Linked DNA regions of Homo sapiens. The protein of the gene in region 1 purifies or fractionates together with the protein of each later gene. This does not show direct contact. Each region holds a gene or a part of one and is shown on either strand. Other genes may lie near its edges. The genes, in order: LARP4, MCTS1, NBEAL2, TPST2, FBXO10 and DRG1.

What was found.
Region 2: the proteins of LARP4 (region 1) and MCTS1 fractionate together in Homo sapiens (co-fractionation; one large-scale study listed by BioGRID). This does not show direct contact.
Region 3: the proteins of LARP4 (region 1) and NBEAL2 purify together in Homo sapiens (tandem affinity purification; one large-scale study listed by IntAct). This does not show direct contact.
Region 4: the proteins of LARP4 (region 1) and TPST2 purify together in Homo sapiens (affinity purification with mass spectrometry; one large-scale study listed by BioGRID and IntAct). This does not show direct contact.
Region 5: the proteins of LARP4 (region 1) and FBXO10 purify together in Homo sapiens (affinity purification with mass spectrometry; one large-scale study listed by BioGRID and IntAct). This does not show direct contact.
Region 6: the proteins of LARP4 (region 1) and DRG1 fractionate together in Homo sapiens (co-fractionation; one large-scale study listed by BioGRID). This does not show direct contact.

The regions. Positions count from the first base shown.
Region 1 is NC_000012.12:50,473,885-50,477,194, forward strand, and holds part of LARP4 (la-related protein 4), read left to right. Parts: intron 1-114; coding exon 115-283; intron 284-1,641; coding exon 1,642-1,980; 3' UTR 1,981-3,310. UniProt on the Homo sapiens protein: RNA binding protein that binds to the poly-A tract of mRNA molecules. Associates with the 40S ribosomal subunit and with polysomes. Plays a role in the regulation of mRNA translation.
Region 2 is NC_000023.11:120,614,101-120,617,600, forward strand, and holds part of MCTS1 (malignant T-cell-amplified sequence 1), read left to right. Parts: 3' UTR 1-3,500. UniProt on the Homo sapiens protein: Translation regulator forming a complex with DENR to promote translation reinitiation.
Region 3 is NC_000003.12:46,989,666-46,993,165, forward strand, and holds part of NBEAL2 (neurobeachin-like protein 2), read left to right. Parts: intron 1-3; exon of another isoform or gene 4-1,227; coding exon of another isoform or gene 1,228-1,243; intron 1,244-1,553; coding exon 1,554-1,639; intron 1,640-1,740; coding exon 1,741-2,023; intron 2,024-2,174; coding exon 2,175-2,281; intron 2,282-2,809; coding exon 2,810-2,890; intron 2,891-3,500. UniProt on the Homo sapiens protein: Probably involved in thrombopoiesis. Plays a role in the development or secretion of alpha-granules, that contain several growth factors important for platelet biogenesis.
Region 4 is NC_000022.11:26,521,496-26,524,132, reverse strand, and holds the end of TPST2 (protein-tyrosine sulfotransferase 2), read left to right. Parts: 3' UTR 1-2,137; downstream 2,138-2,637. UniProt on the Homo sapiens protein: Catalyzes the O-sulfation of tyrosine residues within acidic motifs of polypeptides, using 3'-phosphoadenylyl sulfate (PAPS) as cosubstrate.
Region 5 is NC_000009.12:37,569,881-37,573,380, forward strand, and holds part of FBXO10 (F-box only protein 10), read right to left. Parts: intron 1-3,500. UniProt on the Homo sapiens protein: Substrate-recognition component of the SCF (SKP1-CUL1-F-box protein)-type E3 ubiquitin ligase complex. Mediates the ubiquitination and degradation of BCL2, an antiapoptotic protein, thereby playing a role in apoptosis by controlling the stability of BCL2.
Region 6 is NC_000022.11:31,432,778-31,434,952, forward strand, and holds the end of DRG1 (developmentally-regulated GTP-binding protein 1), read left to right. Parts: intron 1-1,094; coding exon 1,095-1,194; 3' UTR 1,195-1,675; downstream 1,676-2,175. UniProt on the Homo sapiens protein: Catalyzes the conversion of GTP to GDP through hydrolysis of the gamma-phosphate bond in GTP. Appears to have an intrinsic GTPase activity that is stimulated by ZC3H15/DFRP1 binding likely by increasing the affinity for the potassium ions.

The DNA.
Region 1 (3,310 bases):
GGGTGACAGAGTGAGACTCCGTCTCAAAAAAAAAAATTACGTTTTCTTCTGATTAGTTGCTCAACTGTTCCTATATGCTATTCTGAGTCTAATTGCAAGCTCTTTTTTCCTTAGCACAACTCAGCAAGAAAAGGATCTAATAGAAGATTCCTCTGTTCAGAAGGATGGTCTCAATCAGACAACTATACCAGTTTCTCCTCCAAGTACTACAAAGCCATCGAGGGCAAGTACTGCTTCACCATGTAATAATAACATAAATGCAGCTACAGCTGTGGCTCTACAGGTAACTTGAAGATTTTAGTTTATGTTAAAAAAAATACAATAGATTAGATTTTTTTTTTTTTTTCACGTAACACTTTGTTAGAACAGAGTCATTTGGAAGTAGCCCAAGTTGGGGCTGACTATCAGAAAGAAGCTTAAGGAGTGTTAGGGTCACTGCAAAGAGATGGAAAGTTTTAGGCTTTTTTTTGTTTTGTTTTGGAGACTGAGTCTTCACTCTGTCGCCCAGGCTGGAGTGCAGTGGCACGATCTCGCGTCACTGCAAGCTCCGCCTCCCGGGTTCACGCCATTCTCCTGCCTCAGCCTCCCGGGTAGCTGGGACTACAGGTGCCCACCACTATGCCTGGCTAATTTTTTGTATTTTTAGTAGAGACGGGGTTTCACTGTGTTAGCCAGGATGGTCTCAATCTCCTGACCTCGTGATCCACCCGCCTCGGCCTCCCAAAGTGCTGGGATTACATGCGTGAGCCACCGCGCCTGGCCCATTCTGTTTCTTTTGATTGCTTTTTTTCTGTTCATATGGTTAAGTGAAGCTTCTTCCTTACCCACGTTAGGATGAATTTATCATTTTGGGGCTAACATAAAGAGGCCTTGTGCCTCTTGATATTCTTTTGGTTGTATATGTGATACTTAACAAGTCTATAAGTGGCCATTGAGAGGCCACTCCCATTTATCAAGTTCCAGAATTGTTTTATAGTTATATAATTGGGAAAATACAGAAAAGCAGAACAAAACACAAAATTTACCTATAATCCCTAGCATTTTAGTACAGCACTTTTAAAAATAGATTTAGAAGACTATCTTCTCATTCAATGATAGTAATAATACTAAAATAATAGCTACCATTTGAATGCTTACTATATATTATTAGGACTAGTGCTGAAGACTTTACATGTTTTATTCTGTTCTCACAATACCTCTATTCCACCTTTTTCAGTTGAGGTAATTAAGACTTTTAATGAGTCTTTTTATACCATTGGATTCTAACTGCTCTGCTGGGATTCTTTTGTCATCTTTCTTGGGGTTCTTTGTAGCAAGGAAACAGGAGCAGAAAGAACCATTTTATTTCATCATATGGCTATACCATTATTCATCTAATCTGTCCTTTGTTAGGCATTTAGGTCGCTCCCATCATTATAAACAACGCTGACATGAACATCCTTCAGTTAAATTCCTTACGTGAAATTATTGTATAATAAATAAAGATTGTACCAGTGTACTCTAAGCAGTATATATGAGAGTGCTTGTTGCCCTTTTCTGGAAGATAATCTGTGGTTTTCTTATGGTTAACACAATCATTTTTATACTTTATAATTTAAAGAATGTGTACCATAAATGTTTTTTTTTATCATCACTTCAAAGGAACCCCGAAAGTTAAGTTATGCTGAAGTGTGCCAGAAGCCCCCTAAAGAGCCATCTTCAGTTCTTGTGCAGCCACTACGGGAACTTCGCTCCAATGTGGTGTCTCCCACCAAAAATGAAGACAATGGAGCTCCTGAGAACTCCGTTGAGAAACCACATGAGAAGCCAGAAGCAAGGGCTAGTAAGGATTATTCTGGCTTCCGAGGCAATATAATCCCCAGGGGAGCAGCAGGAAAAATCAGGGAACAGAGACGCCAGTTTAGCCATAGGGCTATACCTCAGGGAGTGACTCGACGTAATGGCAAAGAGCAATATGTGCCACCCAGATCACCAAAGTAAAAAACAACAAAACTATTCAAAAACTTCACTCTCTTCCCATTAAACTTGAACTGTGGCTATATTGAACTGTTTTGGAGGGGAGGGGGTAGCCAGGAAGGAAACAAGAGAAAGTACGTCCATTTCATTATGGATTTTGGAGTTGTGAGTGATAGGATCCCAAAATTCATCTCTAATGTGGTTTTTAAATGCTGGAGGATTCCAATCAATATAAATATATATATATATATACACACACATATATAAAAAGTATAATTTTTCTATTTTTGTTTTTGGTTTTAATTTGCAGAGATTTGCTGCCAGGAATCAATTTTGAGGGTTCAGATTTAGCTTGGAAGAAAAAAAAGAAACATACATCCTTCAGTATAGGAGATGAGGGAATGAGAGAAAATATTTTTTGAAGAAGCATTTCTGTAAAATTAGAAATTACTTTTTTTAATCTATTTAAAGTTTGGCTTGAAGAATGCCATCTCTGACTATATGGCCTTGTATTGCAAAGCGGATCAGTGGCTGGGGTGCCTGTTGTGGGTGTGAGTGTGTACAAGAGCGATTGAAGCCAAATCTGTTGTCATGTTAGTAAATGATTTGAAAACTGAATGTAATACTTGAGTAGATTTTTTTTTCTAGTTTGAAATTTAGTCTGTCTTTTTGACCTTACTAATATTTCATTTAACAAGTTGTAAAACTCTGATTGTACTTAGAGATGTGACTACCAATCAGTTTGATACTCAAGGAAAGGGGGTTATTCAAGAAATTGAAAATTTCATCTTGGACCTCAGTGCATAGGTCAAATGGATTTCAGAGGTTTAAACTTCCCTGTGATTCCCCCGAATACCCCCAAAATGAGAAACAAAATTTTTTTTCTTACTCCATTTGTTACTCTCTGTTCTTTGACTGCCCACCCACAGAAAAGCAAAATAACCAACTACCTACTCAATTGTGTGTTTGTAATTGCTTTGAGCAGTCTAGTCAAATCATATAAATTGTTCTAAATTTCAGAATTGAACATTGAAGTATTAACTCTTCTGTTCACACATTTAGAATTTTAGCTCCCAAGATGGTAGGGCAGACTGACCGTACAGTAATTTATTTGTCGTTAGTGTTAAAGATTAAGCATAGTAACTGACTCTTAAGTGTTAAATAATGTAGAAGTAAAAAAATTTTTTTTAAAGGCTTAATTTGGGAGGGGGGACTTATTTCTGTTTACAGTGTATTACCTTCCTTCCCTCCTCTTCTCCCCCCACACCCAACAAAATACAGTTTGGAATTCACTGAAACAGTACCAGCAAGTCATGAGATTTTTTAGTAAAGATGAGAAAGATGGTTGAAGAAA
Region 2 (3,500 bases), on another chromosome or scaffold:
TGGCTGTTCCAGCTGGGTCTCCCAGGATGTAACATAGGTGGACATAGATCCAGGGTCTGACCCTCAGCTTGAGAAACCATTTCCCACTGATGAAACTTGAGAGACTTGGAGATTCCCCAGTTAGAATATAAATGTATTAATTCATAGTGATAGGTCTGCCTATGGTAAACAATTAGGAAACAGGAAGTTACTTGGTAAACACAGGTATGAGCAAAGGAAGATTGATAAATTGGGGTAATATTTCAGTTGTGCTGAGGTAAGACTTGGAGAATTTTTCCTGCTTCATCATTAATTAGAATGCTTATCTCTGCCAAAATCTCATCTCTTTCCTAGCCCATAGAGGTGCCCTGATATTTTATTTCCTATATCCTTTTCAAGTTCCATGTAGTTTTCCTTATGTTATGACAGTTTTATTCTGCAGCTTACCATATTATTTATTCCTGGTCCACGAAAGTATAAATAGTCTCATCAGGAACTCATTTGTAAGTCATCTCCCAGGGGGGTTTCTTCAACAGATAGTTTAATTTTTTGCTGACTTACTGGCTTCAAATTCAGATGTCTCCCTATTTGGGGGAGGAGGCACCCTATTTGAGGCCTGTAGCTCCTTATGTTCTTAAAAAGAATATACAAGTCATTTATGTCAGAATCAAACTTTGAACCTTTATTTTTGTTGCTAAGAGAATGTTTTTTGACCAAGACTGCCTATGGAGTATTAGCAATGAAAAACAAAGCACACATATACATACATTAGAGAAGTAAAAACTTTTAATAGCTTGGTTTTTGAAATAATTCATCTTTGTGTCTAACCACTGTTACAGTGGGTGTAAGGAACACTTTTTAAATATTCAACATCAACATCTGTGCTTGTTTTTCTACTGTGCTGAGGTACACTGTGTTGCCTTGGTGATATGGACTAAATATGTATGTTCTCTGCTTCCCCTGGGTCTGAGGCCTCTGCTCATCACTGTTAATCAGGGATGTCACTCTACATGTGTGATCCTTGTCATTTTCTAAACATTAGGTCATACATGAAAGGCAATTCAAAGAGATTAAACTAGCAGATGTGTCAGCATCTTTAGATACTGTGCTTAATGGAAACTTAGTTTACCTATATTCGTGAGAATAGGAATACAGGGATAGAGAGCCTGCTTCTCTCAGGCAGTGTGTCTTTAGTTCATTTTTAGTTTCAAAATTAAGTTTGTGTCAAACCAACCTACAATCTAGTAACTTGTGTATTGGACTCACTTTTACTCAGACAAGGTCAGTTCAGCTCAATAGGTATTTATTGAGTATCTACTAGGTTCTAAGTGACGTGGCATGAAGATGAATAATACAGAAGTAGCCCTTGCTCTTAAGGAGCTTCCAATCTAGTGAGTAAAGAAAATTTACATTTTAAATAATCTGGGTAATGGTGACAGCCCAATACTAATATGTAAAGCCAGTAGGAATGTACTAATCCTTTTCCAATTTTAGTCATCAAAAATTGTAAATTACAAATGAACTAAATGTAGTAATATTCCATAGATTGTATCCAATGTGAGGGTAAAAAAAAAATCCCAGATGTCTTGGAGTTGCCGTGATTCAGCATCCCAACTCAGATGATTGTCCTGTTGTCCGGTGACATAATGGCCTGATCAGTTCTCTTCTAGCAGACTGTCTGTTATGGTGGTTTGGTAGTGGTCTGTTGGGAAGCTGCATTTTTCCTTTTCTGTTTTTATGCTCTGGACCCCAAACAAAAACAGCTGGATTTATCCCATGGGTAGTCATGAACATTTCCAATTTGAGGGATTTTATATTCCCCAAACAGAAGGTTATATGGCATATATCAAATAATAATGATATCCAGCCAGGTTCCCTGTCGTACCCAAATCAGTAACTGAAGATACGTATTTCTAAGTATAATACTTCAGAGGAAGAGATAAGAATTACAATTCACTAAATTCGTGGAGGTGTTTCATTATAATAAATATGTCACTTATTAATAATGTAGCAATTATATATTAATGGAAATATGAATGTATGCCCAAGCAAAATGTCATAAATATTTTAACTTTGTTTGTCTAGGTTCCTTAATTTTGAGACTATAATTATCAAGGCTCTTCAAGAAACTCAAAATGATTCTAATTTCTAAGTAGTATGCATTAAAACTGATATATAATGAAAGAAAAACAGTGAAAATGTATGCATCAGTTTCTAAAGAAATCATACTTGTCATTGTAGAGATGCATGTAAATTAAATGTATTATACATTTTTATACTTGTATGTATTTTATACTTTGTATGAATACTTTTATTACACTTTTTAAGGCAGGTAAAAGAATGAGTAGATGTTATCAACTATAACAACAATTTGTTGAATACTGTGTTAAAACCAAGTAAAGGACCACAACTCCACGAGATCAGGAATGAATGAAGAAAATTGAGGGCCAGTTTTTAAATCATTGTTGAGACTATTAGGTTCATCTGTCTGTTTAAGAGTCTGGCCTTAGGGAATATAATTTATGCATGTAAAAAAATACAGGAGATGATTCACTGGAATGTCTCTTAATAATACCATGTTCATTAAGAATAGGTCATTGGGAGGAAAAATAAATAAAAACATCTGAACTCATTAGTATAATTAATACTTGCCTCTTAGAATGAAAATTAAAGAACTCCAAATTTTAGCCTTGAATACTTTGAGAAATAAAAGATGAATTAGTGAAATAATTTCTACTTAAAATCTTAGTTGTTACAGAGAATGACATGCCTCACTATTAATGTCCAATTCTAATTAATGGATTGTTTTAGAAATGTATTTGTGAAATATAGCAAACATAGCTAGTAATACTAACAGGTGAAAACTGATATTTCAAATGACTAAATAGACTTAAGATTAGAGGAAGGTAGGAAAAGGTGTGCAACTAACAGAAGCAGTTAACCAAAAAATGAGCTTCAGGCATCAGTCTTATTTGGAAGACTGTAAATCAACAGGCTAACGTTCAAAATATGGCAGACATCTTAATATCAATATATGCTAAATTGGTTTATCTTTAGGCAGAAACAGAAAGCAAAAAATTAAACTCATCCAACTCATACATTTGTTGTTGTTGTTGTTGTTGTTGTTTTTGAGATGGAGTCTTGCTTCATTGCCCAGGCTGGAGTGCAATGGCACGATCTCGGCTCACTGCAACCTCTGTCTTCCGGGTTCAAGCGATTCTCCTGCCTCAGCCTCCCGAGTAGCTGGGATCCCATGCGTGTGCCACCACACCTAGCTAATTTTTGTATTTTTAGTAGAGACAGGGTTTCACCATGTTGGCCAGGCTGGTCTCAAACTCCTGACCTCAGGTGATGCACCCGCCTTGGCCTCCCAAAGTGCTGGGATTACAGGTGTGAACCACCACACCCGACCCAACTAATACATTTTTAAAATCCCATTTTAAAAGTAAAACCACAGTTTTCATATAACAAATGTTATTGCTCTTCATTTCATTCTCCAATTTTAAAATGCTTTACTTTCA
Region 3 (3,500 bases), on another chromosome or scaffold:
GCCATACACAGGAACCACTTGGTGGTGGCTGCATGCAGGACTGGGAGAACCAAAGACCAAGCAAGAGTTTAGGGACAGAGACAAGAGAAGACATCTTGGGCTGGAGCGAGGGCCTCCCATCAGGTGGAGGGGTGGGGTCAACCTGCCTACCCAGATTTCTCATCCTCTTTCCCCGCCATCTCCTGGATCCTTCTAGCCACTTGTACCCTACTGTGATCTTAAAACTCTCTGGTCCAATCCCTTTGTCCCCATAGCCTCCACGCATCTCCACCCATCCCGGAGACACAGGAGGTATCTCCACCTCCTGTTCCCTGGCTGCTGGAGGATCTGGTGCCCAGGACAGCTGTGGCTGCCTGTTCACAGGTGGTCCTGTGAACCTGTTCTCCCTGGTGACCCTCCACCCCTGGGTCCCCTCTCTCCTCTCATTGGAGGGAGACTGGCCAGGACTTTAGATAGGCTCAGGGTGGGATATGGCCTGGACAGAGGTGGGCAGGGCTGTGAAAAGGTGGTGACCTATTGGGATATTAAATGTCTCAGTGATGCCCCCATGGAGCTGTGGGCCTGGATCTAGAGTTGGGGCAGCAACTCCAGGAGGGGAGGCACCCCTAGGGAGCTCCTCGACTTTATTTTCCCATAGCCTGGGTGCTGTTATTAAAACAAACTGGATTTCATTTCTCCTCCCATCATATCCCTTGATGTCAACCTGACGTCCTCAAGATGAAATCCTACTCCTCCCACAGCCTTTCTCTCCACTTGCCCTGCTGCTCAGCCTGGCTTCTGTCCTCTCATTCCCAGACTGCTACCACTGACCCCACCTCAGGGTCTTAGCCCATGCTGTGCCTTCTCCCCTCCAACTGCATTCTCAGGTCTCCCCTCAAAAGCCCCATCCCCAAGGAGGCCTCCCACCCATCCAGCCGGAATCAAGCCCCAGCCCTACTCTTCCTCCTCTGCCAGGCATGTGACCCGGGGCTAGTCCCTTCTGCCCTCTGAGTTTCAGTCCCTGGCCTGGCATCCTGTCCAGTTTTGCTGGCGCAGGGCCAGGTGGGCCTCCTACGTATTAGGTTGTGAAAGCCCCTAGAAGTCCCAGGCAAAGGCATGGGCGTGGGGGGAGGTGGCATCAGTATAGTAGATACAGCAGAGTCCCCAGAGCACGGCATGGGAAGCACCAACCGTCACAGGGCAGAGGCAGCAAGAGATTTGCATCTGAGAAACTAAGCCCTGGTCATCATGGGGAAGTGGAAGGGTATGTGCTCATGCTGGGGCCCTCACTTTGGGGCTTAAGGATCTGGGAAGCTGGCTAGACTCTCAGGGCTGGTCTTTGTCACCCTTAAGTCCCCCAAAGAAGGGTTGTCCCTTTCAGGCCCTCTACTATACAGCCATAACTCCTTAGATGCCCCCCAGGGCAGAGCCAGCTCTTATCCCTCACACTGGATCTTTTACTTGGCCCAGCTCCCTCTCCCCTCCACCCCAGGGCACTCACCTCTTGTGCAGCCCCCTGGGTCCATAGCCCTGCAACCTTGGTGACATTACCCTGCCCACACCCCCCTACCCAGAGAGCCTACAGAATGCAGACCACTTGCCTCCCATACTGCTGTTACGTCTCATCCACCTCTTCTGCGCCGTCCTCGCTGGAGGAAAGGTAGGCTGGGAGGTGAGCCTGTGGACTAGAGAGCAGCTCTTTCAGTATCTCTCTGCTGGGTGAGCCCCTTGCCCACTGCCCATCTCTGTCCACACCTGCAGGAGAACGGGCAGATGGCTGTAAGTGATGGCTCTGTGAAGGGCCTGCTGAGTGTGGTGCGGGGCTGGAGCCGTGGGCCAGCCCCGGACCCGTGCCTAGTGCCACTGGCTCTAGAGGCACTGGTAGGTGCAGTCCATGTCTTGCATGCCAGCCGCGCACCTCCTCGTGGCCCAGAGCTTCGTGCCCTGCTTGAGAGCTACTTCCATGTCCTTAATGCTGACTGGCCAGCTGGTCTGAGCTCAGGCCCCGAAGAGGCCCTTGTCACCCTCCGGGTCAGCATGCTCGGTGGGTATGGGCTCCCAGGCTCTTGGGGAAGGGGCACCATGAGGGAAAAGCCTAAGTGATGATGGAAGGTCTGGATAGGGCAGCATAGGAAGGAAGGCTTAAGGCTGCCTAGAGGGGTCTGGGCAGGGCCTGACCCTTGACCCTTCCACAGACGCCATCCCCATGATGCTGGCATGTGAAGACCGGCCAGTGCTGCAAGCCACCTTCCTCAGCAACAATTGCTTTGAACACCTCACTCGGCTCATTCAGAACAGCAAGGTGGGTAGGGCCCAGCCTGGGGGTGAGGGTCTGGAAGCCAGAGGCTAGGGGAGCCACGCATAGGTGCCAGGCTGCTGCTGAGCAAACATGGGCTGGACAGAGTCAGTGTTTTGCAGCTGGTGGGATGGCTTGCAGTTCAGTGGGAGGGTGTGGGGCATGGACAAGGGCCCATCCCTTGGGGCCTCTATAGGACTGGGCTTGAGGCTTAGGACATCTTTGTGCCCCATGGAAGCGGGGCTTGTTATGGAAGGAAGGGAGCTGCTCTGGTGCCTTGTTTCCCTTTCCGTGGCCCCAAGTACAGGGGCTAGAGGAGGGCACCACTGCTTTCAGATGCAGTGCCTGCTCCCACCCGCTCATCCCCCCGACTGCCCATCTGAGCAGGGCACAGGGGGCTCAGCACCCTACTCTTCCCTAGTGCCGGGCAGGGCACCTGGCAGCTGCCCCTGGTCCTGCTCTAACCCCACCCTCTCCCATCTTCCTCCTCTCTTCTTTGCCTCCTCCACCCTGTGCCTCCCCACTTCCCCACAGCTGTACCTGCAGTCCCGGGCGCCCCCCGAGGGGGACAGTGACCTGGCTACCCGGTTACTGACTGAGCCCGATGTCCAAAAGGTACCATCCTGGGGCTGACCAGCTCAGACACCCCCTGGGACTCCCTCTTTGAGCTTTTCCTGCACTATAGCTGGGGAAATGAGCAGATGTGTGTAAGGCCTGGTGTGGTCTAGAAATGGGTGTGGGTCCTCCATGCTGTCTCGCCTGCCTTCCAAGTCCCCATCCTAGGGAACAGGACAGAAGGTGGTCTATCCCCTGCCTGGTGTTTGATTGGGTGTTGGGGGTCTGGCTGTGCCAAGCTGGATGGAACCTTCGAAACTCAGCCACCTACCTCATTTCTCAGAAGGGGAGACAGAAGCCCAGACACTCAAGGATTTGGCTATAGTCACAGAGAAAGGGGTCTCCCTCATGGTGCCATTTCTTTCTGTAGATTCTTGCACCCACCCTCAGCGGGTCACTGGGTGTCCCCCAGCCCCTGATGATGTGATCCCTGATTCACCTTGCATGTGGGCTGTAGGAGGCTGCAGGGTGTCAGCTGGCAGCTTCACAGCGGGCACCCTTTCTGGGGGCTCAACCTGTGGGCCCCAACCTCCATAGCCCCTACCCTGGCTCTGTCTTCATGAGGTAACCCTATGTGTTCACCGCATGTGGTCATTTTCTTAGAGCTTAC
Region 4 (2,637 bases), on another chromosome or scaffold:
TTATTTTTTAAATGTTTGACACACAGTCTCTGATAAATGATCATTCACCAATCACCGATTACTCTCCTTGCTCTGTTAAGTGTGACACTGTCCCTTTGAGAATCTGGCGACAGCTATGTATCCCATCACCACACACCCCAAAAAAAAAATTTATGTCTGGTTCCAGGAGTTACCTTTTATGAGAAGTCCATCTGTGAAGACCCTGGATGTTCAGAGAACTTCCTGGGAAAACACTGAAAGAAAATAAAGAGGCCGGGCCCGGTGGCTCATGCTTGTAATCCCAGCACTTTGGGAGGCTGAGGTGGGCAGATAAGCTGAGGTCAGGAGTTCCAGACCAGCCTGGCCAACGTGGCGAAACCCCATCTACTAAAAATACAAAAATTAGCTGGGCGTCGTGGCGCATGCCTGTAGTTGCAGCTACTTGGGAGGCTGAGGCAGGAGAATTGCTTGAACCCAGGAGGCAGAGGTTGCAGTGAACCAAGATCATGCTAGTACACTCCAGCCTGGGCAACAGAGTGAGACTCCATCTCAAAAATAAAATAAATAAAACAAAATAAAATAAATACAATTTCTGTTTCTAGCCCCTAAGTGGTAGCACTGGGTCTTGTTCCCTGAAAAAAACTAGGCTCAGAATCCACTCTCATTTCATCTCCCCTGATTTGATCTGAAAAGATTTTGTTTAGAGTACTACATGAATATATTATAAAACATGGGACAATCAGAATTGATAGTAAGAAGGCAAGTGGCTCTATTTGTACTTCCTCTCAATAGCTCCTAAAGGTAATGCTACCATTTTCTGTTTGTACATAGTCTTCCAGACTTTAAATTTTTGAACATATAAATATTATCATCTTAAAGACGTATGGAAAAAACCATTTTGAATAGGTTATTCCAAAATGTAATTTAACAGATTGCTCTGGAGGATTGTTTGTTTGTTTGTTTTGGAGACAGAGTCCCGCTTGGTTGCTCAGGCTGCAGTGCAGTGGCACAAACACAGCTCACTGCAACCTCTAACTCCTGCAAACACAGCTCACTGCAACCTCTAACTCCTGCAAACACAGCTCACTGCAACCTCTAACTCCTGCAAACACAGCTCACTGCAACCTCTAACTCCTGCAAACACAGCTCACTGCAACCTCTAACTCCTGGGCTCAAGCAGTCCTTTCACCTCAGCCTCCTGAGTAGCTGGACCATGACACCTACCTAACTTTTTATTTTTTGTAAAGAGGGGAATCACTATGTTGCCCAGGCTGGTCTCAAACTCCTGGGCTCAAGCAATCCTTCCTCAGCCTCTCAAAGAGTTGGGTTTACAGGCGTGAGCCACCGCACCTGGCTCCTGGAGCATTTCTGATGTGAACATGTGCTGATCTAACACCACTCCTTTTACCAGCTGCCTGTTCTAGAGCAAACCATCTTTTTTGAGCATTCCACTTTGGCTAGGCCCTTAGGCTGTTAGCAGTTTTCATCGCTACTGGCAAAGCTGCAGTGGACGTTCTCCTGCACATATAACCTCTTGATGCCACTGTATGAGTGAGTCTCTGCAAAATGAGAAGTAGAATTGCTGGGGTGAAAGGCATACATACTAACTTTTTTGATTAATTCCACCCATGTACCCTGATTTGGGCAGAATTTTAATCTCACTGTGAAATCAGAGCTTTGTTCTAGAGCCTTTCTTGGGGGTTCCATGGATCAGTGGGTCAGCCGTCACTTGTGCCCTGGCCCATCCTCTGTCCAGCTTGGGCAGCATGCATCATTCATTCTGATTCCTTAATTTGCCATATGTGAAAACATGGTAATCTATACATTACTTGGGTGCTATTATTATATATAACTAGCTTTGGAGTCAGAATTAGCGTCTCATCCTGGCTCTACCACTTTCCAACTGTGCGACTGTGGCCAAGTGACTCCCCTTCTCTGAGCCTCAGTTTTCCTCTTCTGTAAAATGGGGGTAAAGGGATAAGAACTATAGGGGGATCTCAGGGGATGGTTAAGAGAAATCCATGAGATAAGCAAACACATTATCTAGTTTAGTAAAGCTAAGCAATGAAGACTTAACAGCCCCATGGTGAAGGCTTAATACATGGTAGCTATAATGATTACTATTAATATTGTGAAATAAAAGGTTGTGATGAACCAACCATATCTTCTCATCAGGATGTATGTTTGTCCAACTGATAGCCATTTGTAGTCATGATCTGGGGTTGGAGAAGGGTCTTCTGCACATGTGCCAGATGGACTGAATATAGATCTTCACTCTCGTTAGCAGCCACCAACCTGGTTGAGCCATCAGGGCCTCCAAAGGGCTTGGCAATTTTTCATTGAAAACAAAAAACAAAAACAAAAAAACTCTTAAACTATGTCTACCCAAAGAATAAATCCTCTACCCTTCCAGGGTAAGGGATGGACAGCTGATGGAATTACAGACCCAGGAAGCTCATGGTTGCCAGTCATTGGGTAGCAGAGGACATCCAGTCTCATTCATTGTTCCACTCATCTCTTGCGGCCCAACCAAGCAGCCCCAAACTGAGTGACTTAAAACAACTTGTTTTTTTGTTTGTTTGTATGTTTTTTTGAGAGCGTTTCACTCTTGTCGCCCAGGCTGGAGTGCAATGGTGTGATCTTGGCTCACTGCAACCT
Region 5 (3,500 bases), on another chromosome or scaffold:
GTCATAATTAGTCATAAATAAAGGATAATTAGAAAATGTTAGTATGTTTGGATATTACAAAACACATTTCTCGAATATAATATCTATTGGTTAAAGAAAAAGAATTACAATGGAAATTAGAATATTTTTAGAAATAAACAACAAAGAAGGCTGGGCGCAGTGGCTCATGCCTGTATCCCAGCATTTTGGGAGGCCAAGGCAGGTGGAACACCTGAGGTAAGGAGTTCGAGACCCGCCTGAGCAACATGGTAAAACCCTGTCTCTACTAAAATACAAAAACATTAGCTGGGCATGGTGGCGCATGCATGCAATCCCAGCTACTTGGGAGGCTGAGGAGGCAGGATAATCCCTTGAACCCGGGAGGTGGAGGTTGCAGTGAGCCGAGATTGTGCCATTGCACTCCAGCCTGGGCAACAAGAGTGAAAGTCTGTCTCGGAAAAAAAAAAGAAAAGAAATAAACAACAGAGATACCACATATCAAAACTTGTGAACTCCTGCTGAAACAGAATTTGGAAAAAAATGTATAACCTTAAATAGAGAGAATCAAAAAGATAAAAATTAATGAAACTAAACATCAATTTCAAGAAGTCAGAAAAAGAACAAAATAAATCCAAGGAAAATAGAAGAGAAAAATAAAGAACAGAGCAGAACTTATGAAACAGAAAACAAATTTATTATGAAGACTATCACTGATGATAAGAGCAGGTTCTCTGAAAAGAACCTCTACTAAAACCAAAGAAGAAGGAAAAAAAAGCATTAAAATGAAATCAGAATGAAAGAGGGGATATCTCTATAGATGCTGTACACCAAATGATAAGAAAATATTATAAACGGCCAGGTGCGGTGGCTCACGCCTGTAATCCCAGCACTTTGGGAGGCTGAGGCAGGTGAATCACGAGGTCAAGAGATGGAGACCATCCAGACCAACGTGGTGAAACTCCGTCTCTACTAAAAATACAAAAAATTAGCTGGGCGTGGTGGCACGTGCCTGTAGTCCCAGCTACTCAGGAGGCTGAGGCAGGAGAATCGCTTGAAACCGGAAGGCGGAGGTTGCAGTGAGCTGAGATTGCGCCACTGCAGTCCAGCCTGGCGACAGGGCAAGACTCCGTCTCAAAAAAAAAAAAAAAAATTATAAACAACTTTATATAAGTAAATATGAAGGGATAAACTCCTAGGAAAATATTACTTAGTTAAGAAATTATAAAAACAAAATCACCCTAGAACCATTAAAGACATTGAGTCTGTGGTCAAAAATAAGATTGCAAAGAAAACACACCTGCGAGCCCAGGTGGCTTCATCACCAAGTTCTATCATACATTCAAGGGACAAAGAAGGGGAAACTAAAATGGATGGTGGAAGAGGATGATATGGGTATTTGTTAGATTTCTGGACCAACTGCAGCAGCAAGGGTTGTAATTTGTCTCACTAATCTTCCTCTTATAAGTTTTCCCAGGATTTGTGACTAACCAGAATCCTGGAGAAGCTGTACCTGGATACAGTGAACTTAATATAAGAAGCAAGCCTATCTGTATGGTACAAGAAGTGGACTGTGGAGAATACTACTGGTTCCATCCAGATCATCTTTACTGGTTAGCACACCTGTCACTGAGATGTGGTGTCAGCTGAGAACAACTCACAGATGTCCCTTTCTCCAGAAAACTGCAACTGCCCCCTCACCAGGCTGTGCCTCTCCTCCCCCAATCCAGCTTTCCTCATACTCCTCTTCCTGAGGGCTTCTCCCACAGTCTCACTTGAACAAGAATCTCTATTTTATGCCCTGCTTCTACAGAATGGGATCGAAGATATCACCATTTAAGAGGGTGAAAAGAGAGCCATATATATATATATATATATATATATATATATATTTCCTTATTGAAAAATCAATTTAAAAAATTTAAAAATGGCAAGAGACATGAATAGACAGTTCACAAAAGAGGCAATCCAATTAACCAACAAAAAACTGCTCAAGGGCTGGGCATGGTAGCTCACACCTGTAATCCCAGCACTTGGGGAGGCTGACATGGGAGAATAGTTTGAGTCCAGGAGTTTGAGACCAGCCTGGAAAATATGGCAAGACCTGGTCTCTACAAAAAAAAATAAAATAATTATCTGGCTGTCCCAGCTGCTCAGGGGGCTGAGGTGGGAGAGATCTCTTGAGCCTAGGAGGTTGAGGCTACAGTAAGCCATGATCACGCCACTGCAATCCAGCCTGGGTGACAAAGCAAGACCCTGTTTCCAAAAAAAAGAAAAAAGAAAAAAGTGCTCAACCTCAAGAGTAACCAAGGAGAGCAAGTTAAAACCACAAGAAATATCAAGACACACACATGAAAATAGTTAAAATATTAAAACCAATAAAAGCAACTATTTGCCAGGATATGAAGCAACTGGAACTCTCATATACTCCTGGTAGGAAAGTAAACTGTTCGACACTATCTAGTAAAGCAATTGTACTCTAACATATATAACCTAAAGAAACTTGTTCAAATACATCAGAAAATATCTAAGGATGTACTTGGCAGTCAGAAACTATAAGCAACTCAAGTATCCATCAACCACAGGATGAATACATCTATTGTGACACAGCCATACCATGAAACACTGTTGGCAACGAAAATAAGTGAGGCCGCCACGTGGATGCATCTCACAAACAAGTTGAGCAAAAGAAGCAAAACACAAAATGCAAAAGTATGATTCTATATGTATGAAATTAAAAAACTTAAAACTATATTGTTTAGGGATATATACATAGGTGATATAATTACAAAGAAAAGCAAAAAAATGATTATCACAAGATGATTTCTTCTAGGGGAGGAAATTATGATTTGGAAGCAGGTACTGAGTATTGGCAATGTTCCAGTTCTTGACATGTTGGTGATTACGTGTGTATTTCCTTTAGAGTTATTTGCTAAACTATATATTGTGTTTTTTACCATGCATATTTGCTGTATTTCATATTCAAAAAGTTTAAAACAAATAAATGAAATAAATATACTGATTATTGTTTCTTAGAAAAATTGAGAAAACTAAAATCCTTTATTTTTAAATTAAAACCTTGCCTGCAAAATCCCTAACAGGGTACATGCCAAGTAAATTTTCCAGAATGCCTAAATCTGTGTGGCTCAGGGTGACCTGACGACCCCTCTTTACATATGGAAAAGTAAGGTGAGTAGGCACCCAAAGTCCTGGGGTAGCTATCTTGTTGAAGGCTGTCATTCCTGAGAATCATCGGTAGGCAGAACCCTGGAGAGTATGTGGAACCAATTTGCCAAAGGGATTTGGGTTAAGGTTAAGAAGAGAAGGGACTGAGCCCACAAACTCTGATAAGAAGTTTGAAAACAGAGACATCTCTTGGGTGGTCTAGATGACCATGACCAAGGTTGCTAGCAGGAAGGGCCCCAAATGCCCTAAAAGAGAACTCTCCAGGACACCAGGGGAACCCAGCCTGGTGAAAAGCTCAACAAAAGCCCAGAGTGAGGTGCTTTGGGGAGAATGGCTGA
Region 6 (2,175 bases), on another chromosome or scaffold:
CTCGAACTCCTGACCTCGTGATCCGCCCGCCTCAGCCTCCCAAAGTGCTGGAATTAGAGGCATGAGCCACCGTGCCCGGCCTGGAATATAGATTTTTTAAAGAGGTTTTGACTCAATGATAATATAACAACAATATGGCCACCTTTTTTACTCTTGGTACATAGTTCTTAGTCTCTGTGAGGCAGGTCTCGGTGTCTTATTCACCAGTTTTCATCTCTAGCACAACATATTCTTAAGTTTGGAGGCCCATGGATATAAATTACCTTCACATATTCCAGTAAATCGGGAGGACATATCAATTACAGTTTCTGGTTAGGGAGGAAGATTTTCCTGGCATGGCTGAAGAGGGAGGCCCTAATTTCTTGTCAGTACCCACTGATGGTTTCAGGAAACCCAGCAAAAACAGGTATTCTCTAACAGTCTATAAGTGATATTGTATCTGTAAGAATCAGTCTGAAATTTTCAGGGTATTTCTCTATGAAGATTAAAGACGGATTTTTTTTTTTTTTTTTGAGGCGGAGTTTCGCTCGTTGCCCAACCTGGAGTGCAACGGCATGATCTTGGCTCACTGCAACCTCCGCCTCCCGGGTTCAAGCCATTCTTCTGCCTCAGCCTCCCGAGTAGTTGGGATTACAGGCACCCGCCACCATGCCCAGCTAATTTTTGTATTTTTAGTGGAGACGGGGTTTCACCATGTTGGCCAGGCTTTTCTTGAACGCCTGATCTCAGGTGATCCGCACCCTTCGGCCTCCCAAAGTGGTGGGATTACAGGCATGAGCCCCTGCGCCCGGCCCAGAGTATTTCTCTATAACAAATCCATGCTTTCTTTTAATTTTAAACTAGGCTCTTTATACTAAACATGTTTTTTGTCTTTGACTTTCTGCAATAAGAGGAACCACACAACTTCCAGAAGTCTTTACCGGCTTTTATGTTAAGGCTTCAGTGTCTCATGCTGCTAGGGAAGATAAAGCTTTTGTAGGTCTATGGTTCTTAAGGGTATGATACTAAATCTGAGCAGAAGGGTGGCATCCAGGCAAATAGGGCAGAAGCTAGGTTATTATTTACACTGACTGTTCTTTTTCCCTTCCATGCAGTGCTCTGGTCTGGGGTCTCTCTGTGAAACACAATCCTCAGAAAGTGGGTAAAGACCATACGTTGGAGGATGAGGATGTCATTCAAATTGTGAAGAAGTGAAACCTTTCCCTTTTCCCATCTGCCGGACGAACCACAACAGCGTTCCCCATGATCAAGCACCCTACCCCAGTTCTTTCTGGTTTTGGCAGTCACTGGATCAGGATCCAGGGGAGGGAGATGGAGGCACCCAAACTGGAACTTCATTTGTCTTACCTTGGTGTCACCTTGTATGTCGAACTGCATAAAAGATCTGGTAGGCTGGTCAGCTACATGCAGCTCATGTGTCATTGTCAGAATTTGTTTTGGGATGGGCTGAATGAGGAAGGGTATATACGGTGAAGCAGCTACAGAAGGGATCCTTGGGAACTTCATCTTGAGTGTGAAATGGATAAAAATATGACATGCTGCATCTTACTTGATGTTTACTTATGGGAACCCCTTCCAAACTAGATATGGCTTTCAGTCCTTTCAAGTAGTCTTTCCCACATGATACTGGAGAGAGGAAGGACTTTATGTAAGTTAATTGATCACTCCCCGCAAGGCTAACCTATTTTGGGAGATCATGTAATTAAGTACTCCGACCAGGCAGATCAGGGTTTGAAATTGCAGGTCCACCTCTAGTTAGCTGTGGAGCCCTGAACAAATTACCCAACCTTTATGAGCCTCAGTTTCCTCATGTAACATGGGGATAGTAATAGCACTTACTTTCTGCGGTGGTGATTGTTAGTAATGGAGGGAGATGGTACTTATATGTCAAATACTGTGCTAAGCAATTTGTAAGTACTCAATGACTCTTGGCTTTTGTTGCACCGAGCCTTTTACTGGGCTGTCTGCCCTATGCAGAGCACAGCTGTACATCATCAGTGTTGGGTTGAATGTTGAGCTGAACTATGTTGCCACCTGGGCCACTAAAATGCTTTTTTCTTTTTCTTTTTCTTTTTTTTTTTTTGAGATGGAGTTTCGCTCTTGCTGCCCAGGCTGGAGTGCAATGGCATGATCTCGGCTCACCGCAACCTCCGCCTCCCGGGTTCAAGCGATTCT